Regions from separate parts of the Homo sapiens genome. Here region 2 is linked to region 1. The links come from fine-mapping of genetic effects on gene expression. A gene starts in region 1. The other region holds a variant in brackets. All regions are shown on one strand. Distances are between the middles of the regions.

The links. PIP is the estimated chance that this variant, and not a neighbour inherited with it, causes the effect. A credible set is the group of variants that fine-mapping cannot tell apart.
Region 2: its variant is the best candidate, but not a certain one, in a credible set for the expression of ARID5A in monocytes (TOPMed, PIP 0.90).

What each region holds. Positions count from the first base shown.
Region 1 is chr2:96,535,290-96,538,195 of GRCh38, reverse strand. It overlaps ARID5A (AT-rich interaction domain 5A), which reads right to left and starts at 1,444. Exons shown (of 7, transcript NM_212481.3): 1 at 1,366-1,444. The coding sequence starts at 1,369. RefSeq lists an enhancer at 1-5 and silencers at 276-485, 1,166-1,525.
Region 2 is chr2:96,625,389-96,628,294 of GRCh38, reverse strand. The region is part of intron 3 of KANSL3 (KAT8 regulatory NSL complex subunit 3); the gene reads left to right. Among named protein-coding and RNA genes, the nearest start is that of KANSL3, 11 kb to the left of the region's middle. The variant C/T (reference allele first, on the strand shown) is at 1,646.

The sequences.
Region 1 (2,906 bases):
ACCTACGGGGCAGAGGCTCAGAGGTGCCAGTTGACGTCTCTCAACTGTAGAAGCAGATTATCGGAGGCCCTTTCTACCTCTGCCACACCAAGTTCTAGGCCCCAGGCGGGTCCCTAAGGCCTGGATTGGGCTCTGAGCTCTGCTGCGGGGTGAAGCCCTCGAGCCCCGACCTCCCACCCCTCCTGTGCTCTAGCGTTGCCTGTAGGCGCAGTGACGCCACCGTGCGTGTGGGCTCCCACCAGAGGAGCCCGGGTGGGGCAAGAGGCACCTGTTGTCCTCCCCTGGGGCCCGCGGAGCACTCCTTACTGGCCCAAGACTCTGCAAACAAAGGGACACTGGACCCGCAGCGCCTTGGGACCCCCTGGGCCCTCGGGGGTCCTGCACCGCGCAAGCCCCACCACGCCGGCGCTGGGCGGAGGGTGACGCGACCCCAGCCCGGGCGACCCCTAGACACCGCGGAGGGACGGAGCGCGGGCCCGGGTTGGCCCGCAGCTCCCGCCGAGCGCGAAGCCGGGCATCGCCTGCAAGCTCGTAGCCCACGCTCTTGCCCTCTTCCCCTGACGCTCCCCAGCCGCCACCCCGTCCCTTCTGCAGACCGAGGGAAGACAAGGGGACACACAAGGGACAGGAGAGGAGAGCAACCAGGGAAGCGACCCCTCTCCTGTGGGGCTGCGGCGGGTGGGCGGAGAGACAGGAGAGGAAAAGAGAAAAGGGAAGAGAAGGAAGGGGCAGGGGGCGAGAAGCCGGGCTCCCCGGACCATCGGCGCAGCCCGCGGCCGAAAGAGGAACAGTGGATCCTACAAAGCGCATTGAGCAAGTTCTTCACACCCGCGCAGCCCCTTTCAGGAAACGGCGGCCGCAGAGGAAAGGGCCGCGCGCTCTGGACCCGGAGTCTGTGCCCGGCGGCGCCGCGGTTCTGAAACCTGCGGGATGTCACGGGGCGGAGGGGCGGCTGCCGACAGCTGTCACAACAAATTAGCTGAGCCCAGCTCGAGGTGGAAACCGCAGCAGGAAGTGGGACGACAGAGCCGTACCGGGCTCGGCATATTTCAGGCAAGAGACGGCGAAAAGAGTTTCGAGATAAACGCCCGGGAAGCCCCTGGCCGCCAAAACTTTTTGTCTTTCCTTTTCTCGAAGCTCGCGCGGACGCCCAGCCTCACCCCTTCCGCGCCGGCCGGGGAGCGCTGAAGCCGCGGGCCGGGCTCGCTCCCCTTGGCCCGCGCCCCGAAACCCACCCCGGGCCCCTCTCCGCCCCACACAGCGCACCGACTGCCACGAGGGCTGGAGGGGACCCGGCGCCGGCACCTTGAACCTCCCTGCAGGGCCGCCGAGCCCCTGTCCGGGCCGCGCCGCAGAGCCGCTTACCCATGGCCCGGAGAGGTCCCGCGGCGCCCGCCCCGAGACCCTCAGCGCGCGGCTGTCCGGACCCCGCGCTCTCTGAGATACTGGCTCGCGGCGCGGCCCGCCGGCCACCTCCCCGCAGTCCCGCCCCGTCCCGCCCCTGCTCGCCCCACTCCGGGCTCCCATTGGTAAGCCCGGCTTCGTCGCGCGGAGAAGGCGGGGGGCGGGGACCGCCCTTGAGTCCGGGGACCTCTGGGAATTGTAGTGCGCGCCCCTCGCCTCTAGGCTTTCAGACTGGAGCCCCTGGAATAGGCTCCTCACCTAGAGGAGCGGAGGCAGGACCCTCAGTAATCATTGCTGCCTTGTGCCTCAGTTTCCCTGGAGGCAAAACTAGAGCCTTGGAAAAAGCCTCCTTGCTTTCAGCAGAGCACTGAGGACTCTGTGGAGCGAGCAAAGTGCTTCTGACTTTGATTTGAAAGTGGCCCTGTGCATTTCCCAGTCCCCACCTAGCCCAACAAAGAAGGCCAGGTGAGGCCGGGAGCGGCGGCTCACGCCTGGAATCCCTGCTTTGGGAGGCGGAGGCGGGAGGATCACTTGAGCCCAGAAGGTCGAGGCTGCAGTGTGTTTTGATCACACCACTGCACTCTATCCTGGATCCTGGGCAATAGACGGAGACCCTGCCTCAAAAAAAAAAAAAAAAAAAAAAAAAAAAAAAAAAAGGAGAGGTGGTTAGTGTGAGCTAGACAAGGACCAAACTAGTAAATCCTTGGCCTAGGCTCTGTGGCCAGGCCTGCCAGTAATAGTCAATGTCCACACACATAATGCAGACAGAGTGTGGCAGCTACAAGCTGAGTAGTCCAAAGAAGGGGCATGAGTTCAGGCTGTGGGAGGTGGGAATGAGGCCTAGGGCGAATGGAGGCAGGAGGAGGTGCCCAGCCAGCCATAGCAGCAACCTGGACCTGTGCAGGCCAAAGAGGAAGAAATGGAGGCTCAGGGTTTCAGTCTCAGCAGGTGGCTAGCTAGGATGGGAACCCTGTTCCTAGCACATAGAAGCTACACAAAAATCTTTGTTGATGAATTTTAATACTCATAATAGCTCTATGCACTTGACACCATCATTGTCCTCATTTTATAGCGTAAAACTGAGGTCTGAGAGATTAGCTCAAGTAGCACAGCTGGTAGGTGTTGGAGCCAGAGCTAGACCCAGGAAGAGGAGCCCTCATACCCAGGCATCCCCCCACCCGCTTTGCACCCATTACTAACCACTCATCATACTGGTGCCCCTCCTCACACTAAACGAAGGGACCAGGGCTGCAGTTTGGTGAACCTGAAACCCTGGCCCTTACCCTTTGGCCCTGGGATGGAAGATGTCTGCAGGCTCAGTCTAGAGCAGACGACCCTGTGGGCTCTGCAGGATAAATCCCCTGTCTACCTCATAATGGGTTGGCTTGTAAGAGCCAGCACCTGTAGAATTGGTAATAGACACCCAGAACAATCATAATGGTAATTATAACAATGCATCCCACTTTGGCAAGTTTACAAGCCACTTTCCCCTCCAGGAAAGC
Region 2 (2,906 bases), 90 kb before region 1:
GTTCTCAGCAGGAAAGTCTGGAAAACCATTTTATTTCAGAAGTGAATAGATGAGTGGAGAGTCTACACAGGAGGCACAGCAGAATAGCTGGATGTACACATCTTTCCTCTAGGCAAGATGAGTCCACGGAATAGGCCAGTGTGCACCTTCTCCTGCCTGTCCTTTAGAGAAACACTGACAGATTCTTGTCTTTGGCTTATCTTTCTCCAGTCTCCTTGTGGACCACCACCCTTCTGTTATGACATTGCCACATTGCCACAGATTGATGTAATCCATTAAAGCTCAATTTATCAGATTATTTGTTTTCTTAGTGTCTGATGAGATTTTGGAGGCCTTCTCTCATTGGCAGCAGGCTTACACACCATCTCTTTTGGTAGGTAACTTTTGTACATAGCCGATTTTATTATTTATGATAACTTATTAGTTTCAGTTTCAGATACCACCATTTTATGACCCTGTCCCTGAATCTGTAGCCTGTTTGGAGCTTGCAGTTCCTTCTGCTCTGATTATAATCATCGTGTTGCCATTCTTTCCCTGACTTGATTGTTAAATTGCTGCTTCCTTTCTTCTTATATAAAGTCATGTAAAATTAGTTTGCCACATCAAGAGCTCCATGAACGGTGTAGGTCGGCTCCCTAGAACTCTGGAGTTCTTTCCCGGAGAGTTTACTGATTGCTCTTTGTCTGTGGAGGCAGAAACTTAATTTCCTTGTTAAGAGCTTTTTTCCTCTCTCTTGAATGATTTCAGTAGAAACTGTCTTCAGATAGCTTTGTGTATATAGGCTAGGCGCAGTAGCTCTCGCCTGTAATCCCAGCACTTTGGGAGGCTGAGGCGGGAAGATAATTTGAGGTGAGGAGTTTGAGACCAGCCTGACCAACATAGTGAAACCCCGTCTCTACTAAAAATAGTAAAAATTAGCTGGTGTGGTGGCAAACGCCTGTAATCTCAGCTACTCGGGAGGCTGAGGCAGGAGAATCTCTTGAACCTGGAAGGCAGAGGTTGCAGTGAGCCGAGATCGTGCCACTGCACTCCAGCCCGGGCAACAGAGCAAGACTCCGTCTCAAAAAAAAAAAAGAAGCATGTTCCTCCCTTCCCTGCCCCTGACTCTGGCTTTCTTTATTAATGGCTGATATTTTGTGAAATGGTTTAAATATTACTACCTTATTTAATTGTCTGCATTAGTGGTTGTCTAACTATGACAGTGGGCTGATTTAAATTTGGCCCATTGCTTGTTTTTGTGTGGAATGATTTTTACATTTTTAAATAGTTGCAAAAAAATTAATACTGTTTCATGACACATGAAATTAAAATTTCGGTGTGCATAAGCTTTTATTGAGATACAGTCATATTCATTAGGTATTATCCATGGCTGCTTTTGCAGTAAAGCCACAAAATTGAATAGTGGCAGAAGCCATATGGCCTGGAAACCCTAAAACATTTTCTGTCCGGCCTCTTATAGAAAAAGTGAGCTTCCTGGGTCATGTTCTTGTGTCTGCGTGCCATGGCATGTGACTTAGAGGACCTTTGAAAATGATTTCTATTTGCTGGCATAGTGATGTAGTCCTGAAGATGTTGGGCCAGCTTTTTTTTCCCTCCAGATGTTTGTCAAATGTGAAGTTTCATTAGTTGCATAGCTTTTGAAAGA[C/T]ATTTAATAAAATTTTCCTGACACATGATACTTCTCAGAATTGCTCAAATGGATTTTAGGACATTTCCAACATTTTAGTGAAAGAATGTAGTAGTATCCAAAAGCAGGCTTTCTTATCTTAGAAATCAGAACTTCTGAATTCCAGCCAAAAACACCCCATTTTCCTTTTCTGAGCCTTCTTTAGTTTTATATTCAATATTGTATGTATCTGTATAAATCTTAGGTTGGATGTTTGAAATTTTAAGTCCAAGGTCTTTGAGTTATCGTCCCTCCTTCCCCTCCCCCACCCTCTTTATTTCCCCTTCCTTCATTCCTTCCCTTCTTCTAGTGTTTAGACAAAGAATTTTATAATCTGAAAAAGGAAAGTATGACTGTTGAGTTTATCTGATGTACTTTGTGTCTCCTTGTTTGACTTCTGGTTAAAAAAAAATCCTTTAGATATTTTAATGTTGAATTAATTAGTCTTCTTTGAAACAGTATCCAAAATAATGATTACCTTTGAAAATACCAGATATTTTCAGGACCAATGTTATATTTTGGCTGCTTTGAATAGAATGAGCCAGAGGTCAGCATATCATTCAGGTTCAGTCAGAGCAGGGAGAACAAAAGATTTTCTGATCTCATCTAAGAAAGGAAGAAAAGACATTTTTGCCCTCATGAAAATTGAATAGGCGGGTGGGGCACGGGGTGGGGAGTGCCAGTTGGCTCACCACAGTTCCCATCAGCTATTTGACTGTTTAGGCTTGTATTTAAAATTCTGTCTCCTGTTTTTAAAATTTTTGCTAATTATATCTCTTGCATGCTCTTTATCTTAATCTTGGTTTAGATCATTTTTTTTCTGCCCACTTAATTTTCTAGCCTCCCACGAAGCTGACAAAATATAGAGATCATGTTTCAATTCTTGGAGTCACTTTGTTATATATCCAGCAGCAATCCTAAGAACTTTTTCTGGGATTTTGGACTCTCAACGTTGTGGTTTTAAAATTTAATTTCAGCTGTCATTGGTGTATGGTAATAATTTCTAAATAGCTTTCTAACCCTCTGCATCTTGCATTCACATCATTTTCCTTACTCCCATAATTTTGGATTGCAGAATTAATACAGAGTAAGAAAAACAAATAGGGAAAGCATCATTATGTAATAAAAACAGGATAATTTTGGAAATGCTGTTGATATTTCATAAATAAATTATACCTTATTCTCTGTTGTTGGAATTAAAGTTTGCAACGTGATCAATAGGCTTTGAGAAAGCTCCAGAGAT